Linked DNA regions of Homo sapiens: region 1 is linked to region 2. Evidence: fine-mapped expression QTL. A gene starts in region 2. The other region holds a variant in brackets. All regions are shown on one strand. Distances are between the middles of the regions.

What was found.
Region 1: its variant is fine-mapped to the expression of NCMAP in tibial nerve (GTEx, PIP 0.96).

The regions. Positions count from the first base shown.
Region 1 is chr1:24,574,702-24,585,942 of GRCh38, forward strand. All of the region lies in intron 1 of NCMAP (non-compact myelin associated protein), which reads left to right. Among named protein-coding and RNA genes, the nearest start is that of NCMAP, 24 kb to the left of the region's middle. The variant G/C (reference allele first, on the strand shown) is at 6,351.
Region 2 is chr1:24,551,148-24,562,388 of GRCh38, forward strand. It overlaps NCMAP (non-compact myelin associated protein), which reads left to right and starts at 4,940. Exons shown (of 4, transcript NM_001010980.5): 1 at 4,940-5,022. It overlaps NCMAP-DT (NCMAP divergent transcript), which reads right to left and starts at 4,877. Exons shown (of 3, transcript NR_109781.1): 1 at 4,669-4,877; 2 at 741-901.

The DNA of each region.
Region 1 (11,241 bases), 24 kb after region 2:
ACTGGAGACGGTGTCCAGGACAGGTCAGCTCTGAGAGAACCCTGAACCAGCAGTACCAGGAGCACGAGGCACAGTAGACAAGGCCCGCAATACTTTTTTTTTTTTTTTTTTTGAGACGGAGTCTCACACTGTCGCCCAGTCTGGAGTGCAATGGCATGATCTCGGCTCACTGCACCCACTGCCTCCCGGGTTCAAGCAATTCTCCCGCCTCAGCCTCCCAAGTAGCTGGGATTACAGGCACCACCATCATGCCTGGCTAATTTTTGTTTGTAGAGATGCGGTTTCAACATGTTGGCCAGGCTGGTCTTGAACTCCTGACCTCAGGTGATCCGCCAGCCTTGGCCTCCCAAAGTGCTGGGATTACAAGCATAAGCCACCACACCTGGCCAAGGCCCATAATACTTTTAAGGGCCCATTAAGATGTTTTAATTTCTGGGAGGCGGAGGTTGCAGTGACCCGAGATCGTGCCACTGCACTCCAGCCTGGGCGACAGAGTGAGACTTTGTCTCAGATAAAAAAAGATGTTTTAATTTCTTTAAAATCAAGCAGGGGAAAGAACTTTTAGAGCAGCAAAAAAGTTTCAGTTTTTTTCCCTCGGGTTGGAAAAAAAATAAAATTTTTAGAGCCCACGAAAATGTATTACGCTGGGAGAGCCCCACAGAAGTCATAATGCACCCGACTGAGTCTTCATTCGTTCAGACAGGTTTATTGGGCAGGGTGCTTTCTGTCAGCTCTTATTTGATCCTTACAATCCAGATGAGGAAATGAGGCTCCTGGAGGGTGAATAATTTGTCTACAACAGTGATTTTAAAGGTGACAGAGGCAGAATCTGAACCTAGGTCCATCTGAGCCCAAACCCTTGTCTTCGCCAAGCCACACTTGGCATTTGCAAGCTCATCACTGTATTTAACCCAGTCCTCACAGATTAGGAGCAATTGCCCCGTTTTAAAACTGAGAAAACTGCCCGGGCGTGGTGGCTCATGCCTGTAATCCCAGTACTTTGAGAGGCCGAGGCGGCTGGATCACCTGAGGTCAGGAGTTTGAGACCAGCCTGACCAGCATGGTGAAACCCCGTCTCTGCTAAAAATACAAAATTAGCCGGGCGTGGTGGCATGTGCCTGTAATTCCAGCTACTTGGGAGGCTAAGGCAGGAGAATTGCTTGAACCCAGGAGGCGGAGGTTGCAATGAGCCGAGATCGCACCATTGCACTCTCAAAAAAAAAAAAAAAAAAAAAAAAAATGAGGAAACTAAGTCCTGGAGAGGAGAAGAAAGCGCCTTGCCCACAGTAACTTGGCTAGTTAGTGAAGGAGTCAGAACTAGCTCCCTCATCCTGATCCTCTCTGCACAGCCGCATTGCCCCGTCCAGAGCTTCTCCTGCCCTCCCTCGCTGTCCCCATCCTCCACCCTCACCACTGCCACCCTGCACAGATGGCTCCCCTGCCTGTCCCCCGACCTGCCTTTCTTGGTCCAGTTTCCCAGCCACAGAAAGGCCACTTAGGTCTGTGCGGCATCCACATCCCACCTCCTGACAAAGCTGGGGGCTGGCACTGCTGCTTGAGAGGGTGGGAAGAAAAGACAGGCGGCAGGCCAAGACGAGAGTGTAGGTTTAAATGACACCGCAGGTCCCCCAGACAAACGCCCCTCTGTATCTTTGGGCCTATTGTGACTGGCCACTGGCCAGCTCACACCGTGGGCAGCTTGAACGGCTGGGATTGTTTCCCCAACTCCTGTCCTCTCTGGAGTCCAGCGGCTGCCAGGCCCAGGCTTGGCAGGAAAGGGGAGGGGTGTTCCTTCTGGAATGGAGGGTGTGGAGGCAAACAAGCCTCGGGGAGGGTGTCCTGAACCAAGTGAGAGGCTGGAAGAGTCACAAGGAGGAAGGGGCCAGAGAGGGAGGTCCCTGGTCCCCAGCTGTTCAGTTTGCAGGAGGGCAAACTGCAGTCCAGACAGAACAAGTGGCCTGCCCCAGGTCACACAGAAAGTAAGTAACAGGGGTGAGACTAGAACCCAGGATTCCTAACTCCAGCCCAGGGTTCTTGCCCCCCATCTCAGGCCTCTCTGTTGGAGTTTTCAAGATGGCCGTGTTAAGTAGGTGAGGTAGTGAGCCCCATAGACCAAGACCTTGGGACTCAAAGAAAGGATGTTACACAGGACACAGTGGCTCACACCTGTAATCCCAGCACTTTGGGAGGCTGAGGCAGGTGGATCACCTGAGGTCAGGAGTTCAAGACCAGCCTGGCTAACATGACGAAATCCTGTCTCTACTAAAAGCACACACACACAAAAAAATTAGCTGGGCGTGGTGGTGCATGCCTGTGATCCCAGCTCCTCGTGAGGCTGAGGAAGAAGCATCACATGAATCCAGGAGGTAGAGGTTCCAGTGAGCCAAGATTGCGCCACTGCACTCCAGGCCTGGGCGACAGAGTGAGACTCCGTCTCAAAAAAAATAAAAATAAAAATAAAAAATAAAAAGGATGTCACATGCTAAAATTATAGAGCACTAGATTTCCTAGAATTTCATATTAAAATGCAGATACTCCCAGAGAATTGTCATCCTTAACTCATTAATAACAAACACTTTGTGGTTAGCCAAGCCCTTGGATAAGGCAGAGGAAGAGACAGAGAAACAAAAGCGAGACCACTGAAAGATCCATTAGGGATAAATTCAGATTTTTGGAGTTTCTAAGAAGGCACTGGCCTTGTTTTTTTTTTTTTTTTTTTTTTTTTTTTTTGGTTTTTTTGTTTGTTTTTCGTTTGTAGAGATGGGTTCTCACTACGTTGCCCAGGCTGGCCTCCAGCTCCTGGCCTCAAGTGATCCTCCCACTTCGGCCTCCCAAAGTGCAGGGATTACAGGCTTGAACCACCATGCCCGGCCTGGCCTTGGTTCTGGAAGTCAACACACTTGGTTCCAAAGAGATTGCTGGCACTCATTTGGAGTTGAATTTTTTCCTGCACTCCCATCCCCAATTTTTTTTCTCAGAAGTTTTCAGTTGCCCTGTTCATGGCATAGATATTAACTACATCTACATAGTCTTGCTTTTTGTAGGTGACTATGAAGTGACTCGGAAACCTCAGTTCGAGCTTTTGGGAGACTTAGTGCCTTACGACAGCAGGGTGGTTGCGAGGAAAGCTTAAAGGAGAGATGCATGGGCCGGGGGTCGGGGGTCTTACAAGTCGCCTCCCGGCCATGGCTCCTTTAGGGGTGGTTTGGTTCTTGCTGCTGCTGTTGCGCATTTTGTTTTGAATGAATTAGAAAAGAGGTCTAAAAAATGTACCAAATAGGCCAGGCACAATGGCTCACGCCTGTAATCCCAGCACTTTGGGAGGCTGAGGCGGGTGGATCACTTGAGGCCAGGAGCTGGAGACCAGCCTGGGCAACATAGTGAGACCCTGTTTGTACTAAAAATACAAAAGTATTAGCCAGGCATGGTGGCATGTGCCTGTAATCCCAGCTACTCAGGAGGCTGAGGCACGAGAACCTGGGAGGCAGAGGTTGCAGTGAGCCAAGATCATGCCATTGCACTCCAGCCTGTGGGACACTGTCTCAAAAAAAAAAAAAAAAAAAATTGTACCAAATAAACTACCAATGAACCTTCCTCTGTCTATGTGCTCCCGGGGGCTTTGCTGGCCCTCAGTCTCCCCATTTGTAGAAGAGAGGGCAATGGACACAGGAGTTTTCCAACTGGGGTCTCCAGGATCCTGGGACACGGAGTTGCTTCCTAGAGCCTCCACAGAGGGTGTGTGGTGTGGTGAAGAGAAATTGGGAGTGGGGTGGGAGGGAGGGTAGCTGGAATAGAAAGGAGGAGTTTTAATCCCTAAGCCTGTTGGGGGAGGGAGCTTAGTTTTCTTTTTCTTTCTTTCTTTTTTTTTTTTTTTTTTTTGAGACGGTTTCTTGCTCTGTCTCCCAGGCTGGAGTGCAGTGGTACAATCACAGCTCACTGCAGCCTCAACGTCCTGGGCTCAAGTGATCCTCCCACATCAGCCTCCTAAATAGCTGGGACTACAGGCACATGCTACCATGCCCAGCAAATTTTTATTTTTATTTCTTGTAGAGATTGGGTCCCACTATACCGTTCAAGCTGGCCTCAAGCTCCTGGCCTCAAGCAATCCTCCTGCCCCAGCCTCCCAAAGTGCTGGGATTACAGACAAGAGCCACTACACCTGACTGAGAGCTTTGTTTTCTATCATAAACTCATCCGGCAAACTCTCCAACAGAAGAGAAGAGTAGATCTCCTTTCCATCTAGACAAACACATCAGAAAATCTACAGGTTTCATTTTTTCTTTGGCTGACAGAACCTCCCCCACCCCAGTCAGGCTGGTTACCCGCAGACTGTGCCCGGCAGCGCGGACCTCGGCATCTTCTTGCTCCTTCCTACTGGAGGCTGGAGCCCCTGGTCCCTGGAATCCCTGCCCTTCTCTTGCTTCACCCCTCGCTCACTTTAGTGGGTGCATCCTCCAGGGGCTTCCTGGGAAAAGGTGCATGGGGTAGGGTGGGGGTTTTTTTTTTTTTAAAGACTTCATGCCCAAAAGTGTCCTTTCTCATAGCATCCTGTTCTTGTTTTATAGATGCAATATCTTAGCTGTCTGAATATATCAATGTTTTCTTCTTCTCTGTGCATTGTCTCTACTTGCCTTAAATGCCTCCATCTGTTCATTGTTTTGTTTGCTGTCTGTCATGCTTGGGGCTTTTCTCCTCTCAAAGGTCTTTTCTCCTCTCCTTGGCTATCTGTTCCTATTTAAGAGTAAGACATAGGCTGGGGGTGGTGGCTCATGTCTGTGATCCTAGCAATTTGGGAGGCTGAGGCCAGAGGATCACTTGAGTCTAGGAGTTCAAGACTAGCCTGTGCAACATAGCAAGACCCATCTCTACAAAACTAAAAATTAAAAAAGTTAGCCAGACATGGTGGTGCACACCTGTAGTCCCAGCTGCTCAGGAGGCTGCACTTAGGTCCAGGAATTCAAGGCTGCAGTGAGCTATGATTTGCACCACTGCACTCCAGCCTGAGCAACAGGGTGAGACCTTGTTTCAAAAATAAATAAATAAGGAAACAAAAATCCGTTCAAAACTCTAGGTGAGGTGGGCAGAGCTTGTCAACTAGCAGCCTCTCCATAGGCCGACTGGACAGAACCTGGCCATTGTATTAGAAGATTCTCTAGTCAATCAGTATCTGTAGGTCTATTCCCTTTGGCTGGTCTGTTTCCCAGAGCCTAGGCTTTGACATTCCCATTTTCAGCCAGAGATTAGCCTTTGGCAGAGCTGAGCTTCCCAGACAAATGTGCCTATGAATCTCCTGGGGTCTGGCCGAGGGGTAGGTTCTGGCTAGCAGGCCTGAGTGGAGCTGAGATTCTGCATTCCCAACAAAGCGCCAGAGCTGCCGGTGCTGCTGATCCATGGACCACACTGTGAGGGCCACAGCCTGCGGCAGCACTGCCCAAAATGACTTGACACCATCCTGTGCTGTCCAATGCGGGAGCCACCAGCCACGGCGGGTACTGGGCAGCTGAAATGTGGCTAATGCAACGGAGACACTACATTCTTAATTGTATTTAAGTGTAATTAATTTTTCTTTAACTTGCCATGGCTACATGTGGCTATCATGTCAGGCAGTGCAGGGTTACCTCCTCCTGGCTGCCTCTGCAGACGGGGGCAGAACTCACTCTGTTCTGCAGGGTGGAGGAGGCCCACAGTGGTGAGGACGGAGGGAAGGGGTGGAGGGGGGCAGAGTGGAGCTGCGCCTTAACTTTTGTCTTCCTCTTTCTTTGGGTGGGGGGATGGAGTCTTGCTCTGTCACCAAGCTGGAGTGCAGTGGTGCGATCTCAGCTCACTGCAACCTCCGCCTCACAGGTTCAAGCGATTCTCCTGCCTCAGCCTCCTGAGTAGCTGGGACTACAGGCATGCACCACCACACCTGGCTAATTTTTGTATTTTTAGTAGAGACAGGGTTTCACCATGTTTTGTCAAGTTCCAGCCTGGTCTCAAACCCCTGACCTCAGGTGATCCGCCCGTCTCAGCCTCCCAAAGTGCTGGAATGACAGGCGTGAGCCACTGCGCCCAGGCAGTCTTCCTCTGTTTAGCCCCACCTGGCACCCTGACGTTTGGTGATCTCTGTCACCACTCACTCCTGAGTCTGGGGGGCTTCTTCAGTGCAATCAGCTTTAATTGGTTTCCTAGTCTGTAGGTTTAGGCCTTTGCCTTTTCCAGGCTGTTAAGTCATACTCAGCCGTCGGCTTTTCCGGCTTTCAAACCTGGATTGGCGTCTCTCCAGTGTGGTTGTTTTCTCTTCTGTACCCTTTGGCCTTGAGAGTTGACGCCTCTTGATTCTTGATTCCTTCACTGTCATGTGCCAGGGG[G/C]TTCAGGATGAAGCAGAGATGAATAGTCGTGCTCCATCTAGTTTGCTGAACCAGCCAGAAGTCCTTTCTGCTTTTTTTTTTTTTGAGACGAGGTCTCGCTGCGATGCCAGGCTGGAGAGCAGTGGTGCTATTTTGGCTCACTGCAACCTCCACTTCCCAGGTTCAAGCGATTCTCCTGCCTCAGCCTCCCAAACAGCTGAAATTACAGGCACCCGCCACCACGACTGGCTAATTTTTGTATTTTTAGTAGAGATGGGGTTTCACCATATTGACCAGGCTGGTCTCGAACTCCTGGCCTCAAGTAATCCACCTGCCTTGGCCTCCCAAAATGCTGGGATTACAGGCATGAGCCACTGTGACCGGCCCCTGCTTTCTTTTGTTTAAAAGATGTATCCCAAACTTTGTTTATGTCAAGATAAGGCCAACCGGAATTCATCCTTCTTACCTGTAAGTTCCCTGCAGGCAGGAAATTCATTGTGTTCAGTAGCCTAGAGAAACCACCCTAAGTTACTGCACGGACTGAGAGTCGCTGGGAGAAGTCCAAGGCTCTGCCTGTCTGGGAAAGAGAGCCCAGCTAACCAACCCAGCGCACTTCCTCTAGTCTGTAAAGGGATTGATGAGGCTCATGGAGGGGCCAGACAGCTGAAAGACATCCTTGCAAATCAGAACTGGCCAGAGAGGGGCCTAAAGCAGACAGTCTACTTTAGTAGACATTTACAAGACTAAAGTCCTTACAAGACCAAAGACCTTCTAAGCCCTTGGCAGGGAGGAACTCTGGAAAGGAAGATTTGAGATTGGTTATGAGTTAACTAGGCAAATAAATCCCACAGATGGGATAGAATTCTGGCTGGCAGGGGCTGGGCTGGACCGGTCCTTCAGGACAGGATGAACTATGGATACCTTTGAAGTGAAGTTAGAGGTAAGTTGGTGCTAAGACTTACATGAAATCAGCTTGCTCAGCAGGGAAGGAATCAGGCCTGCCCAGTTGCCTCTTGAGCCCACTCCCTATTCCCCTACCCCAGCTGGCCTAGCGGCTCCAGGACTCTTTCTCTGTCCGTCTCTCACAGCCCTTCTCATGCGCAACCTCCTGATTCGTTGCTCGTGCCGACCACCCCCTGCACACATCGGATCCACCTCAGTGCCTCCCGTGGTGCTTGGCCTGTGTGTCTGCGTGTAAAGGCAGTGTAGATGAAGCAGGAGTGGATTCAGAGTGCACACCTTGGGATCAGACAGATAAGAGCCCAACTCCTATGTAGGAAGCTGAATAATGGCCTCCCAAAAACATCCTCATCCTAATCCCCCAAACCTCAGAATATGTTAGTTTGCACAGCAAAAGGAACTTTGCAGATGTAATTAAGTTCATGACTTTGAGGTGGGGAGATTATCCTGGATTAGCTGAGTGGGCCCAATGTCATCGTAAGGTTCTTTATAAGGGAGAGGCAGGAGGGTCACAGAGAGAGGAAGAGATGTGATGATGGAAGCAGAGATCAGAGAGAGCGAGGTAAGACGATGCTACGCTGCTGGTCTGAAGATGGAGGAAGAAACCACGAGCCAAGGAATGCAGGCAGCTTGCAAGAAAAGGCCCAGAAATGAATTCTCCCCTAGAGCCTCCAGAAGGAACACAGCCCTGCTAACACTTTGATTTTAGCCCACTAAGGCCAACTTTAGAATTCTGACCTCTTAAACTGAAAGAAGATTAATGTGTGTTGTTTTAAGCCACTAAATTTGCAATAATTTGTTAGAGCAGCAATAGGAAACGTATAGATCCTAGCTTTGCCATGTATCAGCACAGATGCCTCAGGCAAGTTTCCTAACTTCTCTGAGCCTCAGCTCCTATGTCTGTAAAATAGGAATAATATATGGAGAAAACATATACAAAGTACTTGGCATGGTAACTGGCACGTAAAAGACACTTGATCAATGGCAGTAATTGTGCTTTTGGTCATCGCCATCGTCGTCATCATCATGGTTATTGGTTGTTTATCCACAGGTATGAAAACAGACTGGACATTTTCCTTCTTATCTAGTTCTTCTTGGATAGGGAGAATAGGAAACTGTTAAGAGGCAGGCCAAATAGCTCTACTCCAGTGATTCTCAAGCAGAGAAAATTTTGTCTCCCAAGGACATTTGGAAATGTCCTGTAACATTTTTGGTTGTTCTAACTGGTGGGATGCTACTGGCATCTAGTGAGCAGAGAGGCCAAGGATGCTGCGATGGTGCTGAATATCCTATAATGCACAGGACAGCCCCTCACACCAAAGAATTACCTGGCCTGAATGTCAGTAGTACCAAGGATGAGAAACTCTGCCATACTCTGAGGCCTGGCTGTACCTCTTGGGCTCAAAATATCAACAGGTAGAAAGAAAAGTGAGCAGAGAGTTGCCAGGCACGGTGGCTCATGCCTGTAATCCCAGCACTTTGGGAGACCAAGGCGGGCGGATCACCTGAGGTCAGGAGTTCGAGACCAGCCTGGCCAACATGGGTGAAACCCCATCTCTACTAAAAATACAAAAAATTAGCTAGGTGTGGTGGCGCACATCTGTAATCCTAGCTACTCAGGAGGCTGAGGCAGGAGAATTGCTTGAACCCGGGAGGTGGAGGTTGCAGTGAGCTGAGATCACGCCACTGGACTCCAGACTGGGTGACAGAGCAAGACTCCGTCTCAGAAAAAAAAAAAAAAAAAAAAAGTGAGCAGGTGAGCAGAATCCTTCCCTAGCAGGGTCACTGACCATCAGAGTGTCCCCAGGAATACTGCTTACCTCCCGGGGACCAGGATTGCCGAGGACGGTTTGGAGTAGGAGATCTGAGTTTGAGACTCAGCTCCTCCACTGACCTGCTGTTAGATTTTGGGCAAGTCCCTTAACCTCTCTGAGCCTCCGTTTCCTATCAGCACAGTGGAGATGAAAAGACCTGCCTCGCTGTGTGGATTGAATGGGGAAGCATGTGAAAGCACAGTGCCTGGCACTTGCATAGGGTCTGCTTGAGTGTGGGCTTCCTTCCCTCCTGGCCTAGAATATCGAGGTGGCATTATTATCCTCTGACATATTCACTGAGGGGCATAAACCCATTAACCCTGTGCCCTCCCCCCGCCCCACAGGGACAGCGGGACACCTGGAGATTTACATGGGAGCTCCTATGGAGGTCGAGGACTCTCAAGAGTTGGGTCCTTGGCTTGAGCCCAGAGACTGAGAGGTAGACGGAAGCCACAGGTCACATTCTAGCTCTCAGTCAATCTCCACCACAATGTCCACGGGTCTCTTCCTCCCACCGACTTCTGGCACTGTGTGTGCCACCCTTTTGGCACCAGCAAAGTAAGCCTTGTGACCACTTTCAGCTGGGGTTTCTATTTATAACTCTTAGCACACTCAGCTTATCATATCTGCAGGTCTTGGGTTAGAAGCTCCTGGAGTCCCCTTTTCTTACAATGTGGGTCACAAAAATCAGAGCAAAGGACATCTGAGCCACCGTTTGACAGGGTGGGGAAGTAAGACTTCCCCTGAAGTCTGTGTGTGGTGGGCCTGAAACCCAGACTTCTGGAGCCACAGGCTGCGGCTTTTGCCATAGGACTGCAGTATGATATTGATCAGGCACCTTTCTGTGGTCAGTGCTGGGCTAGGCATGGGGTGGGCGGTGGGGTGGGGTTGATGCCCAGTACATGTGATTGAAGAAAAGATTCTGAAAGGAAACAATTCCTTTTCTCATTCTTTCGGTCTGAGTTCCTCAGGACATAATCCCCTTGGCCCCTCTGGTTTTTTGGTTTTTATTTTATTTATTTATGTATTGTTCTTTGGTTTAAAACAGACCCACGGCCCTCTTTGCGTCTTCTCAGTCCTATGCACAGGGTGGGCATTGATTGAATGGATGGGAGGACAGATGGACAGAAGAACGGGTGGAAGGACTGTGTGCCCAGTGAGTGGGTGGGCGGGTGGGTGGGTGGGGGCATGAGTGGATAGCAGGATGAAAGAATAGATGGGTAAATGGAGCAGAAAATGTGCTCCCTTATTTCTGGGAACCAACTACAAGGAACACATGTTCAGTATGTAATTGTGTATGGCCTCCAGTTCAGGGGAGCACACGGCAGAATTCCTACCCCAACTTTGGGAGCTGTGATACACAGAGCCATGAACAGACAGGGCAGACGGGGTGGGGAGCTTATGATAAGGGATCCAAGAGGAATAGAGGGTGAAGGAAATGGCCATGAAGGATTCAGGCGGCTCGGGTGACTATGTACCCTACAGAGTGCTTGGAAGTTCATTCCCGGGTTTCCTTTCTTGTGCACTGCTGTTGCCAAATCAAAGCCCCTTCATGGAATCTGCCTCGGTTTGTTCCAGTCTCTAGTGCCTTCTAGGAAGGATCGCTGCTTTCCAGAGTGATGTGCTCACGCTGACTTCCCTCTCCTCACATCCCCTGAGTCCATATCTACAAAGAAGAATAAGCTTTTGGAAGACACTGGTTCTTGTGAAGCTATGAACAGTTCCATGTAACAGAATCACTGGTTGGAAAAGCCCTTAGAGATGATCTCCAAACTGGGCTATTTTACAGGCAGGAAAACCAAGGTCCAGGGAAGGGAGAGGACTTTCCAGGATCAGGTAGCAAATGAGTGACAAGGGAAATCCTGGTCTTCCGAGTCTCAGGTTATGAATCCACAGCTTGCTCTTCCCCTGCCCAGCCACAGCCCCTGTGTCCCACCGGTCCCATCAGGACTTTTTTCTCTTTGGGGGAGATTTCACTATTTCTTCTGTCTCTGCTCTCAGTGGAGATGGAGAGGAAGATCAGGTCCTTCAGAGGTCCTGGTGAATCCCTGCTCAGATCCCCTCCTTGGGACACCAGCGTTCATGGTCTGACTCCCTCACCTCCCTGTTTATACCTGAGTTTGACCAAATGCAGCCCA
Region 2 (11,241 bases):
CGTGTGTCACTACGTCAGTCTAATTTTTGTATGTTTTGTAGAGGCAGGGTCTCTCCATGTTGCCCAGTCTGGTCTTGAACTCCTGGACTTGAGTGACCCACCCTCCTCAGCCTCCCGAAGTGCTAGGATTACAGGTATGAGCCACGGCACCCAGCCTGGCTTCTTCATTTTTGTTGTTTTTCTCCCATCAGAATGCATGCTTCATCAGAGCAGGAATTGTCATCTCTTTTATTCATCACTGGCACACAGCAGGCTATTGGTAAATATTCACTGAATGAATGAATTATAGAAGAGGAAACTCATGTCCAGAGAGGTTAGGAGACCTGCCTGAAGTCACACAGCAAGTAAACGGAGTAGCCATTAGATTGCGTCTTCTCTCGGTGTGTGTTTTTTCTGCTCTCACTCTGGGATTCCTAGGGTGACTGTGATAGTAGGATAGACCAAGGAGGTACCAGGGGAGGAGGACTCAGCAGCTGAGATAGCTGCGAATGGGCTGACTGCCACCAGGAGAGCACAGGTTCCTTGCCAAGGTGAGGAGGCGTGGCTTCCGCTGATGGCAGAAGGACTTAAATTAATTTACAGCTTCCTATTTTCATTCTGAGAAGTTTTTCCCTTGTAATTACCAACAAATGGTTTGCGCTAACGCACATTCCTAAAAATGTAGCATAAAAAATGAGGAAGCTGTCAGGTAATGACCTGGGCTGGCTGTTTAAAGGCACACTCACGATTATCAGACTTACCGTGGAACTGGATGAGGCCTCAGAGACAAGGCCGTCCAACCCGTCATTTCACAGATGAGAAAACAGAGGCCCGGGGAGATCAGGTGGCTCGCAAGGAGATTAGACCCCTGACCCTGCCCCCGTCATTCTCTTGTCTTCTCATCCTCCATCGCCAGATGCTCCTAGAGGTAAGATGGGAATTAGACCACATGCAGGACAGCAGCGCTTGGGAAGGGGCTCTGGTCCTCCCCTGCACTTCACGTCCGCCCAGCACATGTCCATCTGGGATCAGCCACATGACACACTGCACTACGAGCCCTGTAGGTCATTTAGAACCTTGGCCTGTGTCTTGCGGCCTTTGCTGCTCCCTCTACTCTCTGCCTACTTAGTTGAAAAACAGGGAATTGTTTCAAAATCAATTGGCCTAGGTATGTTTGCCTCCTCTCCCTCTCTCTCTCCCTCTCTCTCTCTGTACTAGATTAAACAATGTGGACTTGGGTTTCTCTGGACTCATGATTCTCTGTGCTTCGTCTCCTCCCCTGAAATTGCATTCTAATCCCACATGACATTTGGCTGGTTTCCCCAGCAACCATCTCAAAAGCCATAAACAGCAGATTAAGGCTTTGAGGGGAGACATGAAAGACTGGACATGCCTGGCCAGGAGATGAAAACACAGCCGCTCAAAGGCTAGTTTGTAGTTACATCTTCTGCTAATAAGAAAAGGAAGGATAACTGGTTGTCTCTGGGTATTTTCCACGTGGAAGCAGCCGCTTTTTGTTATTTTAAAATCCCCCAGCACCTCAGACTCCATAGGGTAACATCCGAAACTGGAGTGGTTTGTTGGGTAATTTTTTCTTTTTTTTGACATAGAGTCTCGCTCTGTCACCCAGGCTGGAGTGCAGCGACGTGATCTCGGCTCACTGCAACCTCTGCCTCCTGGGTTCAAGTGATTCTTCTGCCTCAGCCTCCCGAGTAGCTGGGATCACAGATGTGCGCCACCACGCCCAGCTATTTTTTTTTTTTTTTTTTTGTATTTTTAGTAGAGACAGGGTTTTGCCATGTTGGTCAGGCTGGTCTCGAACTCCTGACCTCAGGTGATCCTCTCACCTTGGCCTCCCAAAGTGCTGGGATGTTGGGTAATTGTATAAGCAATTTTCATTGACTAATAAAACTGATTTATATATAAACATCCTCTTTATTTTAAAAATGAAAAATCACCACACTTTTTTTTTATTCCATTAAATTGCTTTCAAAATCTTTTTTTTTCCCTTTCTCCTTTTTTTTTTTTTCTTTTTTTGGAGAAAGGGTCTAGCTCTGTCACTCAGGCTGGAGTGCAGTGATGCGATCTCAGCTCACTGCAGTCTCTACCTCCCAGGCCCAAGTGACCCTCCTACCTCAGCCTCCCAAGCAGCTGGGACTATAGCCATGCACCACCATGGCCGGCTAATTTTTAAAATTTGTTTTGTAGAGATGGGACCTTGCCATGTTGCCCAGGTTAGTCTTGAACTCCTGGACTCAAGTGATTCTCCTGCCTCAGCCTCCCAAAGTTCTGGGATTACAGGCGTGTGCCACCGCCCCCAGCCTGTTGCTTTCCTTAATTGCAACGGGAAACCCTCCATGGTTTTCCCTAGTCCTTGGAATAAAATCCTTACTCTGACCTGTAAGACCTTGCATCTGATCTCTGCCTGCCTCTGACCTCATTCTGTCCACTCTCCCTGAAACCACCCCTGGCTTTGGTTGCTATACTGGCCTTAGGATCTTTGCACAAACCAACCTGCTGCTTCCCCCACCCTATCCCACCCTGCTCCCTTCTAGAGTGCTCCCCGGCCCCAGCTCCAGCCCCTCCTCACCTGCCTGCTTGTCCTTTGGGTCTCAGCTCCCCTGTCCTCCCCTGGCAGATAGGTTTCTGTGGGAGCCCCTGCCCTCCCACCCATAATAATCAATGACACCATATTATTATTTCCTTTAGAACTTTTCAGATGGTCTCACTATTTTGTTACCATCTTTTGTGCTTGGGTCATCTGTCCCTTCAACCCCAGCCCCACTGGAAGGTGAGGTCTACAGGGCAGGGAGGGGCCACCACTGACTCTGCCCCACCTTGCAAAGTGCCTGGCCTATAGTGAACACTCTGTAGCACTTAATGAGTGAATATGCAGCGCGATGAAGAGCCTTTTCATGCTTCTGCCTCCTGGGCTTGGCTGGTGTCTCTGACCCTGGTTATGGGAGGGCTGGTGCAAGGAAGAGCTCCCTTCCCAAACCCCTTACTGTCGGTGTGCACAAACTCATTCTGACAGGGCAGGTGTCCTGTGGCTTAGCCAGCCTGGATTAAGGGACAAAGCAGAAGGTGGGCTTGAGCCATAGATAACAGAAGGCTGAAGACTACCAAACCCCACAGAGAAGGACCTAAGACATCAAAGTCCCCCTTCCCAGCTCCTGCCACTTGGCATAATCATTCTCCCACTTACCTGGCACTTCACAAGTGTGATCTCATTTCTAATCCTCACCGCAACTATACTGAAGTATCTTCTCTTCATTTTACAGAAAGAAACAGTCTCAGAAACTACTCCCATCTTGCGAATAGTAAGCAGTGGAGCCAGGATTTGAACCTGAGACCATGCACTGGGGGCTCTTGCCCCCACAAACAAACCTGGAAAAACTTCCAGAAGCATCCTGAAGTGGCCCCCCCCAGTGCCATTTACTGTGGAACTCAGGCCTCAGGGCCAGAGCAGGCTCCCACTGGACTCCTCTCCCCACATTGTGGCCTCTCCCTGTAACCAGGTCTGCCTCCCCCACAACAGGGAAGCTCTTGAAGCCATGGATTAGCACCATGCTCCTTAAAGACCATACTCAAGTGTCTCAAGTCTTTGATGAGAAAGTAGAATTACAGGATTATACTCTCAATCAATATTTGTTAATACCACCTTGCAGCTGGGCATGGTGGCTCATGCCTGTAATTCCAGTACTTTGGGAGGCCAAGGTGGGAGGATCGCTAGAGCCCAGGAGTTAGAGGCTGCAGTGAGCCGAAATCCCGCCACTGCACTCCAGCTGGGGCAGGAGAGCAAGACCCAGTCTCCATAAAATAAAATGGGTTGGGAGCAGTGGCTCATCCAGCACTTTGAGAGGCCAAGGCTGGTGGATCACTTGAGGTCAAGAGTTGAAGACCATCCTGGCCAACATGGTGAAACCCTGTCCCTACCAAAATATATATATACATACACACACAAAAAAATTAGCCGGGTGTGGTGGCATGTGCCTGTAATCCCAGCTACTCGGGAGGCTAAGCCAAGAGAATCGCTTGAACCAGGAGGCAGAGGTTGCAGTAAGCCGAGATTGTGCCACCACACTCCAGCCTGGGCTGCAGAGTGAGATCCTGTCTCAAAGATAAATAAATAAATAAATACTACCTTGGAGTTTCCTATAAAAATACGTGTTTTCTTCCTATAAAAATCTTAGTTCTTAGCTGAGGAGAGTTTGAAAGCATCTCACAGGCACTGAGCGGCAAGGCAGTCGGCCCAGATGCAATCACTTTCTGGAAATCAATTGAAAATAGAACCGGGAAACCAGCCTCCACTCCTGATACTGTTACTAACCTGCTATAAGACTTTGTGCTCACCTTTGCTTCCTGGGCCTCAGCTTCCCTGTTTCTGAGAGAAGAGATCCCCTCTCCGAGATCTCTTCCCGCTTTCTATAAATATTGATTGAGTACCCGCTGCCTGCCAGGGATATCGCCCTGGGCTCCTGGGATACAGCTGGAATCTCGACAGCCTGGGGAGGAAGGAGCCTTTGATCCTACAGCGGCAAGAGTTCTTGACACTTGCCGGCTGCCAAGCCTGTTTCCTCCCGGTCTAACGTTCTGTGGTTGTCTGAATCTCCAGCTGCCCCTCAAAACCTTCAATCAGATTAGCGCCGTGCTCCTTTAAAGACCCTACTCAAAGTGCCTGGAGCTCACCTGGGTGTGTTTGTGAGGCCCTTTCCCTCTCTTTACCCCGCGGAGGAGTCCGACCTGGAAGCCTCCTGCTGGACTTCTCTACTGGACTGAGTGCCCGGGAGTGCCAGAGCCAGTCCCAAAAAGGACCCAGGAGCGGGGACACCACGGGGAGGCGCCGCCACTCCAGTGTGCGGGACCCTGGCACCCCCGGCGCGTTCTCCGGCCTCCCCAGGATCACCTGCACGGGGCGGGGCCGGGGGCGGGACGCCCCGGGCGGGGGCGGGATCCCAGGGTGGCAGCGCCGGGCGGCGGCGGGGACCCTGGCTGGGAGCGCGGCGGTGCCGGCGGGAGGCCGAGCGGGGCTCGACAGAGCAGGTAGGAGGCGCCTGGTCGCCGGGGTTGCCCGGGGCTGCGGGGAGCGAGGAGCGGTCCGGCCCAGGTGCGGTGGCTTCCTGTCCACCTGCCGGCCGCGCTGGGCGAAGGAGGGCCCGGGGGTGGGGACGAGGGGTCCCCAGTCTCACCCCCACATCTGTTGGAGGAAGTGCCTGGGGTCTGCGCGGGAGGGCGTTGGTCCGGGGTGGTGGGAGGGAGGCTGATCATCTCCAGTGGGTCTTGGAGACGAGGTCGTTTCCTTGTCCCCTCCCCACCCAAGCATCTGGCGGAGGGGCCGAGGCTCGCTGGAAGAAAAGGGAGTCGACCTTGACCCGGCCTGGAGATAAAGGAACTTTTACCCACTTGGGGCCTTATCCGCCCCATCTGTTAAATGGGCGCCTTGATGGGTCTGCCCTATGCAGAGGCCCCTCCGGAAGATCTGCGATTCAGCGAGATGAAAACCCACGGCAGAGAAGGAGCCCAGGGCCGTAGTTTCCATCCACAGCACGTTTGGAGGGGCTCGGGGGTCGCTCATCCAGCAGCGCTCCTGAGGAAGGATGCAGAGACGGCTCCAGTCCTCTGGGTATCCTTGTGGGAGGAGATGGCTGTGTCAAATATGAAGGCTGGATTAGAGAGACCAAGGCAGCCCTTGAGTCTGGGAGAAGATTCTGGAAGGCCCCTTGGAGGAGGTGGCATCTGAGTGGGGCAGGGAAAGGAAAGGTGGTGGTTAGGGCAGCGCTTTGGAGTCCCTGCTTTACCCCTCAGCCAAGGCCGTCCAACAGTCTCGGGCAAGTCCACACTTTTCTCTATGTTTCAGTTTGATGTGCTCCTTAAATGAAACAATTTCTCTGACAGATTAAATCAGATAACTCATAAAGTGTTTAATACAGGGTGGGTATATAGTAGGCACTCAATGAACATGAGCTATTAATGTCTGCTAGCAGCTGCTTGGGGGCAGGGATGATGCCTATTTGGTTCACCCTTGTATCCCCAGCACCAGCACGGTGCCCAGCATGCAGTAGGTCTCAATACATATTTGTCCAATGAATGAATGAATGCATATGAAGTACAATGCTTGGCACAAATAGTGAATTTACAGATGGCTGGTTCTAAGAGGTGGGTATGGATACTAGAGACAGTGGTCTAGGTGGATGGAACAGTTATAAGCAGAAGCCAAGAGCAACAGATTATAGGCACCCCCTCTTATGGTGCATGTGTGTATGTGTGCATGTGTGTGTGTGTGCGCTTGTGTGCATGTGTGTGCATGTGGGTGTGTGCACGTGTGTGCGTGTGTGTGCGTGTGTGTGTTGGTGGTGGTAGTAGAAAGTGACAGGCACAGCCAGAGCACCGGGATAGAAGAGGGCACATAATACCCTGGAATCCTGAGTCCCATCAGCCCGTGGGAGTGGATGATGGGGCAGGAACTCTAGGTAGGCCAATACCTTTACTCATGTCCTCTAAGTGGGGAGAGGGGACAGAAGGGCAGCCAAGAGACACCAAAGGACCATGAATGCCTGGTGGGAGGGGAGGAGGAAATGGGAAGGGGGTTCCCATGACCCCTTCATGGCCTGTGGCTTTCTTCACCTTGTCCCTGCTGGGCTCTGTGCTGGCTGGGGCCGAGATGAGCTGTGGGGAGGCAGCATGGTGCCAAGCCAGCCAGCCGCGGCGCGTGCGGTGAGCTGGGCATATAGTGAGCTGGGCTTGAGGAACTGGCTGGGCTCTGTGGGAATCTAGTGTAGTGGTTTCCTATCAACAGCTTATCCCCTGGGCCAGTTCCTGGGCTCCGTAGCACCATGTGGACTATGGCCATTCCTGCCTGAAGTCAGGAAGGAGCTGTGTCCTTGAGGTAGAGCCACTCTAAGCAAAGCTAGTTTCAGTTTTGTGACGTCCTGGCAGGCAGCTGCAGTGGGTTTCCATCTCCCTGGGTTGACCACGAATATGTGAGAAGCAAAGTTCTAAAGTGCAGGTGGAGACTGGAGGAGTACATGAACAGTTGGGAGGCGCTGGACCCCCTAAGGGGGCCAAGTTCGAAGCTTCTCCTTGTAGCACTTTCCATAATTGCCAACAACCCTTGTTTAATATCGGTGTTTTGCCCTAAGCTCTAGAAAAGCAGGGAGCAAGGCTGCCTTGCTTCTCACTTTGTCCCCACCTAGCATGGTGTGTGGCTCACAGGAGGGGCTCAAGGAATCTATGTGGAATGCATCCACCCAGGCTGAGGATGGAGCTTTTGGCTTTGAGAGAGGAGATTCCGACAACACTGACCATGAGCTTCTTGTTTCATCGTGTGGTCCCCCCACTGTCCCCATCCCCTCTCTCACATTTTGTACCTCCACCCTTTCTCCTGCCATCATCAATGCCTTTTCTCAGAGAAGGATCTAGTGCTAGACATTGACACATGAGGGGAGGCCTCACACTATGTCACTGTTCCCTGGGCTCCCAGAGGAGAAAGTGACGTCCAAGCTGACCCCCCCTCATCCTGTTGCTCCTGGGACACAGGGTCATAGTGTGTTAGAGGTGACAGGATCTCTACAGGGAGCGGAGCGCACTGTCACTCTCAGGGTTTGCAAACCAGGATCTGGACGTGATGTTCAGGGTCACGTAGAGTTGGGGAAGACCATTTCTCCTAACTCCAACAGCTTTCCACACTCAGTAAGCGGTGGCGTTCTCCAGGAATTGTAAATGCAGCAACACTTCCCTTTATTTTTCAGTCATCCAATAAATTGGGATGAAAGGTTAAAAAGAAAAGAAAAGAAAGGTAAAGTGGATTTTAAGTTGCCCAATAAACTCTTTTAATTTCTTAAAAAAAAAACCTCATGTATGATGAAAAGAAAGACCCCAAATTACATCTATTCACCTGACTTTTAAAAAGATATATATATTTGATATTGAAGAGAAATATCCAAAACAGAACTTCTGTAATTTGGGCTAAACCTGTTGCTGGCCAGAAGTGCCTGTGGTAAGATGTCCACTTTGCATGCTGCTGTCCAAGGGCCTCTGAAGTCAGCCCGGAAGCAGCGGCCGGTTTGTTTGTCCTGGACAACCTCCAAGCCTTGTTCTAGTTCCCCTATCGGTTTCCCCATCTCCATCCATCCAGTCTCCTGAGGCAGTCATTGGCATCTCAGCCACTGGAGTCCCGCTGTTTGCTTTGGGACCTAGCAGGATGGATTTCTTGCTGTTTACACTGAAAAGAATTCCTAATCAGAAGTATAGATCCTAGGTGGGCAGGAGGCGGCAGGAAGAAGGAAAGGGGCTGAGCCAAGAAAAGAGCCAGCAGTGAGTCCTGAGCAGGGCAGGGGTGTGGGTGAAGCTGAGGGGGCGGAGCCAGAGGGGGAGCTGGCTAGTGGGGCTGGACCTTCTCATGTGGTTTGAAATTCCCCGAGGTAGTGGCTGCAGTTTAGTCTAAGGAAGGAACAGAGGGTGTGCCAACCTCTAAGACAGAGAGGCCTGTTCTCTAGCTGGGCTCAGGCCTTCTCCGAAGGGCCTCCTGCCTGGGCTGGACACATCTGAACTGTGGGGGCCCTTGCGGGGCTGGTACCTGCTTGGGGCCTCTGGGCTTGGAGGGCTTTGCTCCAAGTAACAGCCCCGAGGAGGCAGAGATGAGCAGGGCGTTAAGCCCTGTACTCTGCCTCAAGCCACATCACCTCTCTGAGCCTCAGTTTCCTAATTTAACCAGAGACGATAGTACCCTCTGCAATCATCTATTAAGAATTTGTGGCCGGGCGCGGTGGCTCACGCCTGTAATCCCAGCACTTTGGGAGGCCGAGGCAGGTGGATCACGAAGTCAGGAGATCAAGACCATCCTGGCTAACATGGTGAAACCCTGTCTCTACTAAAAATACAAAAAATTAGCCGGGCGTGGTGGCGGGCGCCTGTGGTCCCAGCTACTCTGGAGGCTGAGGCAGGAGAATGGCGTGAACCCGGGAAGCGGAGCTTGGAGTGAGCCGAGATGGCACCACTGCACTCCAGCCTGGGCGACAGAGCCAGACTCCATCTCAAAAAAAAAAAAAAAAAAAAAAAAATTTGTTTCCCTTTGCCTCTGAAGAAACTTGTGTCTGGGGAGCTACCTTTTGGGGCAAACAACCTCAGGATTTAAAAATTCGTCCCACAATTCACTCGTCATTGGTTCATTCATTTGTTCATTCACTCAGCCCACCTCTTCAGGGCTTGCTGACACCTGCACTGGGAATTCAGAAAGAGCTCTTTTTGCTGCCTGTCTGGTTTCGTGCACACCCTGGAACACAGTGGCCTTGCTTTGAAGTTTTCATCTGTTCCTCCACCTGGGGTGTTTCCTTAGTCTGTCGTGTAATAAAAAACAAATGTGGGCCCGGGGTGTTGGCTCACGCCAAGGCAGGAGGATCACTTGAGCCCAGGAGTTTGAGACCAATCTGGCCAACATAGGGAGACCCTGTCTCTACAAATAACAAAAACTTTAGCAGGTGTGGTGTTGTGCACCTGTGGTCCCAGCTCCTCGGGAGGCTGAGGTGGGAGAATCACATGAGCCCAGGAGGTTGAGGCTGTCGTGAGCTGTGATGGCACCACTGCACTCCAGCCTGGGTGACAGAGCAAGACCCTATCTCATAGAAAAAAAAAAAAGCAGTTGTGCAACTTTTCCCCTCGCTGCTGTGCCCAATCCCATGACCCTCATGGGGGTTTCCTAAGGTTTCAACTTGCAGTTCATTGAGGAAAACAAATGGTTAACTTGCTTGCGGAGAGCTTCTTAGGTGCCCACACAGTGCAGAATGCTATACAAGCCCTGGCCCTTTAACACCCCCAGAGATGAGTATTATTGTTCCATGGTGCCCTTGGGGATGCATTCTGACTTCCCTGAGCCTGGGGCGATTTTGCCTTCATGGGACCCATGCCCCATAAGAAATATTTAAAATCATCCCGGCGCAGTGGCTCATGCCTATAATCCCAGCACTTTGGGAGGCCGAGGAGGGCGGATCACCTGAGGTCAGGAGTTCAAGACCAGCCTGGCCAACATGGGGAAACACCATCTCTACTAAAAATACAAAAAAAAAAAAAAAAAAAATAGCTGGGCACGGTGGCGAGCACCTGTAATCTCAGCTACTTGGAAGGCTGAGGCAGGAGAATCACTTGAATGGGGGAGGCGGAGGTTGCAGTGAGCCGAGATCGCACCACTGCCCTCCAGCCTGGGTGACAAGAGTGAAAGTCTGTTTCAAAAAAAGAAAAAGAAATACTTACAGTGATATTTATATGACTGCATGGGTATATCAAAACATCTTCTTCAACCTGAAAGTCGCTTTTTCCTCTGGATTTTAAAAGAAATAAAAACATTTTTTGTGGGACCCTAAAAGTAATCTGGGCATCATGCCACCTGCACCTAATGGAGACGTGGGTCCTCCAGCTAACAAGCACAGGGATGAAACTCCAGCCAGGCCCTTCACTGTGGAAGCTCTAACCTCACAGTACTGCCTTGAGCAAGAAAGAAGGAAGGGAGGGGCCGGGCGCGGTGGCTCATGCCTGTAATCCCAGCACTTTGGGAGACTGAGGCGGGCAGATCTCCTGAGGTCAGGAGTTCCAGGCCAGCCTGGCCAACATAGTGAAACCCTGTCTCTACTTAAAATAAAAAATTAGCCAGGTGTGGTGGTACACACCTGTAATCCCAGCTACTTGGGATGCCGAGGGAGGAGAATCGCTTGAACCTGGGAGGCAGAGGTTGCAGTGAGCTGAGATCATGCCACCGCACTCTACTCTGGGGGACAAGAGCGAGACTTCGTCTCAAAAAAAAAAAAAAAGAAAAAGGAGGGAGGGACAAAGAACTGGAGAAGGAGACCAGTTATCCAAAATCTGAACACCTTTAATGATATTAATAGTTCTTGCTGGAAAATGAAACTTGGTTTTTTGTTTCTTTGCCTTGCTGCTTTTTACCTCAACTTTTTAAGATCCATGCCTACTCAATCCTCCTTCTTTGAAATTCTGAATGTTCTGCCTCCTAAGGGTAACTGGTTTGCCCAGAGGATGAAAAGCAATTCATTTATCTTTTTTCTAAGCAGCTCCAAGTTCCTACCTAATTCCCAGTAACAGCGTCATTCGTCACAATAATAACAAGAATAATTAACATTTTTGAGAGCCTTTAATGTGCCAGGCATTCTACGAATCACTTTGCAGCCTTGTCTCCTGATAAGCCTCAGGAACCCTATAAATGAGTGCTATTATCATCTCCATCTTGCAGATGAAGAAACTGAGGCTTGGAAAGAC